2 linked regions of the Homo sapiens genome follow. The protein of the gene in region 1 purifies or fractionates together with the protein of each later gene. This does not show direct contact. Each region holds a gene or a part of one and is shown in the gene's direction. Other genes may lie near its edges.

Region 1 (4,176 bases):
ACCCCTCCATTCCCAGAGACCCACCCAGGCGATGGAGCGGCCCTGGGCTCCCGGTCAGCTGGCGGGCGGACGGCGGCAACCCCTGAGCCCAGAGGAGCCCCGATAGACCCGACACCGGCAGAAACCAGGGGTTCAGATTTGACTGTGAAGTCTCAGCGTGTTTACGTGGGGCGTCCCAATCCCGACACCCCAAACACACCCCAAGAACCGACGCCTGGGGAGAGTTGTCACGGCCACTGTGGCAGAGCCACACTGCTCCCACACTAAGCTCAGGGCCACAGTGGTGGTCGTTGGCTGCTTCCCCTTCCCCTTTCCCTTTTTCTTTTTCTTTTTCTGACACGGTCTCACTCTGTGGCCCAGGCTGGAGTGCAGTGGTATGATCTCGGCTCACTGCAACCTCTGCCTGCCGGGTTTAAGCGATTCTCGTGCCTCAGCTCCTGAGTAGCTGGGATTACAGGCACCCACCACCGTGCCCAGCTAATTTTTGTATTTTTAGTAGAGACGGTATTTCCCTATGTTGGCTGGTCTCGAACTCCTAACCTCAAGTGATCTGCCCACTTTGGCCTCCCAAAGTGCTAGGATTACAGGTGTGAGCCACTGTGCCCAGCCCTTTTTTTCTTTGTTTCTTTCTTTTTTTTGTTTTTGTTTTTGAGATGCTGCCTCACTCTGTTGCTGCAATCTTGGCTCACTGCAGCCTCCACCTCCCAGGTTCAAGCGATCCTGGCACCTCAGCCTCCCTAGCAGCTGGGACCACAGGCGCCTGGCCCATTTATTTTAATAGCTTTATCTCAGTATTTTCACACACCATATAATTCACCTGGTGAAACGTTTGTAGTATATTCATAAAGTTGTGCAACCACCACCACAGTCTAATTCCACAGCATTCTCACAGCTGCAAAAAGAACCCACCTCAGCCCTGCCAGCCGTCACTCCCCGTCCCCTCCCCCAGGCCCTGGTGCTCACACATCCCCTCTCTGTCTCTGTGGCTCGGCCTGTCCTGGACATTTCATAGACGTGGGATCACACGCTGCGTGGTCTTCTGTGTCTGGCATCTCTCACTGGACGTGATGTCCTCAAGATGCAATCCCCCCTCCCCCCCGCCGTGGCCTGGTCTGGGCCTTGCCCCTTTCCATGGTTGAGTCGTGCTCTGAGGTGCGGGTGGACACTGGAGCTGTTTGCATCTGCCGACGACGATGATGAACTGTGCTGCCGTGAACTCTCACCTGCCAGTTCTGGCCATGTGAACATTTGGTGGGCAGGTGTCTTCGTTTCTCTGGGGTCTGCGCCTGGAGTGAAAGTTCTAGCTCGTGGGTCATGGGGTAGTTCCATCTGGGGGACTTCTGGGCTCCCAGCAGGCCTGACGGGGTCTTGCATCTCGTCCTGGCTGGCCCTGGGAAGTGGCATCTCGCTGGGGCTGGCCGGCTGCGTTTACCCAGCGTGTTTTTGGAGGCATGTCCTGTACACGTCCTTTCCCCCCCCACTTTTCTTTTTTTTTGAGATGGAGTGTCACTCTGTCGCCCGGGCTAGAGTGCAGTGGCGCGATCTCGGCTCACTGCAAGCTCTGCCTCCCAGGTTCAAGCCGTTCTCCTGCCTCAGCCTCCCGACTTTGCCCGTTTTTAGTTGCGTTGTCTGTTTCTCTTTTTCTTTTTTTTTTTGGCAGGGTCTGGTTCTGTCACCCAGGCTAGCGCAGTGGTGGGACCACAGCTCACTGCGGTCTCGATCTCCTGGACTCAAGCCATTCTGCCTCCTGCCTCCCGCTCCTGCCTGTCTCCTCCCCCTCCTTAGTAGCTGGAGCTACAGACCCACCCCAGCATACCCAGCTAATTTGTTTTTTGTAGAAATGGGGTTTGGCCATGTTGGCTAGGCTGGTCTCAAGCTCCTGACCTCAAATGGTCTGCCCACCTTGGCTTCCCAAAGTACTGGGATCACAGGTGTGAGCTGCTGCACCTGGCCTGGGCTTTTTTTTCTTTCTTTCTTTCTTTCTTTTGAGTTGTAAGCACTTTTTTTTTTCCCGATACGGAGTCTCACTCTGTCGCCCAGGCTGGAGTTACAATGTCATGATCTCGGCTCGTTGCAGCCTCCGCCTCCTAGGTTCAAGCGATTCTCCTGTCTCAGCCTCCTGAGTAGCTGGGATTACAGGTACGTGCCACCACGCCTGGCTAACATTTGTATTTTTAGTAGAGACGGGGTTTCTCCATGTTGTCCAGGCTGGTCTCGAACTCCTGGCCTCAGGTGATTCGCCTGCCTCGGCCTCCCAAAGTGCCAGGATTACAGGTATGAGACACCGCGCCCGGCCAGCACTTTTTTTTTTTTTTTTTTTTTTTTTTTTTTTTTTTTTGAGACGGAGTCTTGCTCCCTCGCCCAGGCTGCAGTGCAATGGCACAATCTCAGCTCACTGCAACCTCCGCCTCCCGGGCTCAAGCAATTCTCCTGCCTCAGCCTCCCAAGTAGCTGGGATTACAGGCGCCCGCCACCACACCCGGCTAATTTTTGTATTTTTAGTAGAGACAGAGTTTCACCATGTTGGCCAGGCTGGTCTCCAACTCCTGATCTCAGATGATCCGCCCGCCTCGGCCTCCCGAAGTGCCAGGATTACAGGCCTGAGCCACCGCGCCCCCGGTGATGGCGGAGCGTGCCGAGAATTCGTGGGGCGTGGGCTGAAACGCATGTGGTGCCTCCCGGCCTCACCAGGAGCCGGGCCGCACTTTTTCTATATTGTAGATGGTGCCTCTTCACTCTCCCCTCACGGTGGGTTCATGTGCATCTGGCATCGTTTGCTCACCCTGGCCTTAGTCCCTCCCCACCCAGCCTGTGCTTCAGTGGCAGGAGCAGGTGAGGCAGGCACGGCGTGGTGTGGGCGGGGGCCCAGCTGTCGGCCCTCCCCTTGGGCACTGCACGCCAGACCCCCGCTTCTCCCCAGAGTCAGTGGGTGAGGCCGGGATCTTGCTTGCTGGAGAGGTCCCAGCCCCTGCCCCTGCGAAGACTGAACAGCCCCGGTGCAACCTGCATCCCCAGAGCCTGGGGTCGACCTTGGCTCCCCTCACAGCACTCCCCCATGCACGGTGGGAGCCTTGTCTCCTGTTTTTGTCTGTGTTACCTGGGGGTGGTCTTGGGACCCCCATGTGAGCCCCTGGCGTGATGACACGTGCCGTGTGAGGCCATTTTCACGTTGCTGCGATGGAGCACTTGAGACTGGGTCGTTCATAGAGAGCAGTTGATTTAGCTTCCAGTTTCCAGTTCTGCAGGCTGTGCGGGAAGTGTGTGTCGGCATCTGCCCAGCCCCTGGTGAGGCCGGGAGGCACCATGCACGTTTCAGCCCAGGCCCCACGAATGCTCGGCACGCTCCGCCATCACCAGGGGCCCAGCCATCCATGAGGAGTCCGCCCTGTGAGCCAGTGTCTCCAGCAGGCCCTTCAGCCCTGGGGATCCCGTTGCAGTGTGAGATCCACAGGGGATGGCATCCGTCCTGCTCGGCACAGCTGTGGCTTGAGGCTGGTGCTGGGGAACTGTGAACGTGGTTTTGGGACTCACCCACGGCTGTCCCTGGGCAGGGTCCTCACGTCTCCTCTGGGACATCACCATGTTGGCCTTGTGTTGTCCTTGGCTCTAGGGGGACCTGGGGATGGGGTCTTGCAGGGGTGTGGCCAGCGTGGACGTGGCCTCCCCCGAGCCAGGGGAACGGGCTGTGTGCGGGGCTGCCAGAGCGTCCTGGAAATGCCACTGTGGGGTATTGGGGCACCCCTCCGAGTGGTGCCACCTGTGTGAGGAGGTGCCCAGGCACTGGTGACGCCCGTCACGGTGGGGCAGGTCGGAGGGGCTCAGCCAAGGCGCTGATGACGCTGGTGACGCCCGTCACGGTGGGGCCAGGTCGGAGGGGCTCAGATCGCCGGGAGCCACCAAAGGGTCAGCGGGTGGCTGGCAGAGGCCAGGTCCCCTCGGCCGCCCTCCAGGACCCACGGGTTGGGAGCCACCCTGGCCTGCGTGTGCCTGGCCAGCCAGAGACCGCTGGGTCCGGAGCCCCTCTGTCCTCACACTTGGGGGGGTTTGCAGGTGATGCCGGCGTCACCGTGACCCGGCCTCCTGTTCTCTCCTGCAGGATTATATCTGTCCAAGATGCGAGTCTGGTTTTATCGAGGAGCTTCCGGAAGAGACCAGGTAATGCAGCCCCCTGTTGAA
Region 2 (3,180 bases), on another chromosome or scaffold:
GAGGTGGGGTCCAGCCTGTGATGGGGAGGAAGGAAGCCCCAGGCAGACAGGCCCATGGTCACAAGGCCCCCTCCACAGGCCAGACTGGCGGCCTTGAAACGGCCAGACGACGTCCCACTCAGCCTCTCTCCCAGCAAGCGGGCGTGTGCCTCCCCGTCGGCCCAGGTGGAGGGCAGCCCTGTGGCAGGCTCCGATGGCAGCCAGGTGAGCTGAGGTGGCAAGGAGCAGGTGGCAGATGAGTCGGGGCTGGGCAGCTGTGACCCTTCTCTCCCCCCACAGCCTGCTGTGAAGCTGGAGCCCCTGCACTTCCTGCAGTGCCACAGCAAGAACAACAGCCCCCAGGACCTCGAGACCCAGCTGTGGGCCTGTGCCTTCGAGCCGGCCTGGGAGGAGGGTACATGGTGGCGGGCAGGCGGGGCAAGGGCCGCTGGAAATAGGGCCGCCTGGATGGGTGGGGGATCAGGAGACAGAGCTTAAAAGGCGCCATCAAGGCTGGGAGGAGGAGGCTGCAGGGAGGACCTAGATGGGAAATGTCTCTGCTCATCCGACCTCTCAAAACCGGGCACTCAGGGGCCACATCCCAGACCGTGGCCACGTGCGGCGGGGAGGCTGTGTGCGTAATTGATTGCCAGACGGGCATCGTGCTCCACAAGTACAAGGCACCCGGCGAGGTGAGTGCAAGGCCCTGTCCCTGCTGGGCAAGGGTGCCCGACTGACTCCTGAACAGCAGCATGGGGATGGATGCAGGCTCGGCCCCCTGCCCCATGGCCTTTTTCTTTCATGCTGGGGCTCCCTCCCCCAGGCCCGGGCTACCCGCGTGTTCACACCAATAGCTCTGCCCCAGTGACTGTTTACTCTAACCCCCGCCCAGGAGTTCTTTTCTGTGGCCTGGACCGCTCTGATGGTGGTCACACAGGCTGGCCACAAGAAGCGCTGGAGTGTGCTGGCGGCTGCAGGCCTACGGGGCCTGGTCCGGCTGCTGCACGTGCGTGCCGGCTTCTGCTGCGGGGTCATCCGAGCCCACAAGAAGGCCATCGCCACCCTGTGCTTCAGCCCCGCCCACGAGACCCATCTCTTCAGTAAGCCCCTCCCCTTCACCCCTGGGACCCCCAAGCACCCCTGTCCTGCTGCCCCAGTAGCCTCCACGCTCCCCTCCCTGGGATGGCTGTGAGCTCGGGCGCCTGCCGGGCCCCAGTCTGCACCGCTCCGACTCTAGCTTTGGCAGGAAGCCATGTCGCTTCAACCCTGGCTTTATCCACAGCCTGCTCTGTGGCCTCGGAGTTTTCCAACAGCCTGGGCCACTCTGTCCCCTGTCAGTGACCTGGGGGGATGCCCCTGCCCCCGGGTGTGGCGCCCCTGTCAAGGGGGATGGATGAGCCACAGGAAGTGGCCGCTGGAGCCACCGCATCAGGTTAGATGGAGGAAACAGGGATTGGGGGCCCAGGAGTGTTCCTGTCTCCTAGCCTCGGCCCGCCCTCCCCGCCTCGGAGGGGCTGGCCTTGGGACCGTGGGCTCAGCCTGGGATGCAGCCAGCAGGAGGGAGCAGGGTCATCTCAGGGCCACTTCTCCCCTACCCCACCCCCTCTTCAGCGGCCTCCTATGACAAGCGGATCATCCTCTGGGACATCGGGGTGCCCAACCAGGACTACGAATTCCAGGCCAGGTGATGCTTCGGGTGAGGCTGGGGAGTGGCCAGCTGCTGGGGCAGGGACACCTCGGTCTGGGTCTGATGCTCTGTTCCCCCTTGCCCACTGGCAGCCAGCTGCTCACACTGGACACCACCTCTATCCCCCTGCGCCTCTGCCCTGTCGCCTCCTGCCCGGACGCCCGCCTGCTGGCCGGCTGCGAGGGCGGCTGCTGCTGCTGGGACGTGCGGCTGGACCAGCCCCAAAAGAGGAGGTGAGGCTGGGCAGGGGGCGCCTTGGAAGCCAGGCCTCTGCAGAGGGTGGCTGTTGGCCCAGATGGGCTCACAGCAGCCTGGGCACACCCGGGTAACCATAAGGGTTGTTTTTAGAGGCCTCTTCGCAGAGCTGGCTTGTCCCACCTTTCTGCCAGGCTCTGGAGGAAAGGACTCTGACCCTGCTCTCACCCTGGGTTCAGCTGTGGGACTGGGCCATGATGACCTCCCCTTCACCTGGGGCTTCAGCACCATGCTGTGCCCACGTGATCCAGCCCACTCCTGCCACTCATCAGCAGTGTGATGGTCCTCTGTGCTGGCATAATGTCCTCATCTGTAAAGAGGGGCCGATGGCTAGCGGAGGGCAGGTGAGGTGGTGTCTGGGCAGGCAGGCTTTGGAAGTGCCACGTTGAGGCTTTCTGGCTCATCTGTCCCACCTGGAAGGCCTCTGAGACAGGGCTTGGCAAGGGGTCCCTGTCCTCTTGGGGCCCCCAGCCTACTGGGGAAGACAGATGCTCAGCAAAGGTGGCCAATCAAAATCCCACAGTGTGATGCCAGCTACGAAGGAGACGGAAAAAGAGTAACGGGCAGAGGGACACTAGCGTGGGGGCCTCAGGGGACTCTGCTGAGGTGACCAGCGGCAGATGGATATTCTGGGGCTCACGCTTTCCTCCCTGGGAGCCTGGTGAGGGAGTCAGCGGGCGGAGGGTGGGGAGGTGCTTGCATGGAGGAAATGGTACGTGCAAAGGTCAGTGGCAGGGGAGCCAGCTGGCCTGCTCCACCATGTGGCCACAGCTGGGTGGACCCAGCCCAGAACAAGGTGGCAAGGGTGCCTGGGCGGGGCACGCCGGGCTTCGTCAGCCACGGTAAGCTTTGCATTTCTATTTATTTACTTTTTATTTGAGATAGAGTCTCCCTCTTGTCACCCAGGCTGGAGTACAGTGGCTCGATCTCGGCTCACTGCAACCTCTGCCGCCAGGTTCCAAGTGATCCTCCTGCCTCAGCCTCCCGAGTAGCTGGGATTACAGGCGCACGCCACCATGCCCGGCTAATTTTCTTTTCTTTGAGATGGAGTTTCACTCTTGTTGCCCAGGCTGGAGTGCAATGACACGATCTCGGCTCACTGCAATTTCCACCCCCCCACCGGGTTCAAGCAATTCTTCTGCCTCAGCCTCCCAAGTAGCTGGAATTACAGGTGCACGCCAACACGCCTGGCTTATTTTTGTATTTTAATAGAGATGGGGTTTCACCATGTTGGCCAGGCTGGTCTCGAACTCCTGACC

The links. Proteins that work in one complex are often made in the same cells at the same time.
Region 2: the proteins of RNF126 (region 1) and LRWD1 purify together in Homo sapiens (affinity purification with mass spectrometry; 3 studies listed by BioGRID and IntAct, with this or other methods). This does not show direct contact.

The regions. Positions count from the first base shown.
Region 1 is NC_000019.10:652,805-656,980, reverse strand, and holds part of RNF126 (E3 ubiquitin-protein ligase RNF126), read left to right. Parts: intron 1-4,096; coding exon 4,097-4,155; intron 4,156-4,176. UniProt on the Homo sapiens protein: E3 ubiquitin-protein ligase that mediates ubiquitination oF target proteins. Depending on the associated E2 ligase, mediates 'Lys-27'-, 'Lys-29'-, 'Lys-48'- and/or 'Lys-63'-linked polyubiquitination of substrates.
Region 2 is NC_000007.14:102,467,984-102,471,163, forward strand, and holds part of LRWD1 (leucine-rich repeat and WD repeat-containing protein 1), read left to right. Parts: intron 1-78; coding exon 79-204; intron 205-279; coding exon 280-394; intron 395-570; coding exon 571-671; intron 672-871; coding exon 872-1,079; intron 1,080-1,590; coding exon 1,591-1,663; intron 1,664-1,758; coding exon 1,759-1,899; intron 1,900-3,180. UniProt on the Homo sapiens protein: Required for G1/S transition. Recruits and stabilizes the origin recognition complex (ORC) onto chromatin during G1 to establish pre-replication complex (preRC) and to heterochromatic sites in post-replicated cells.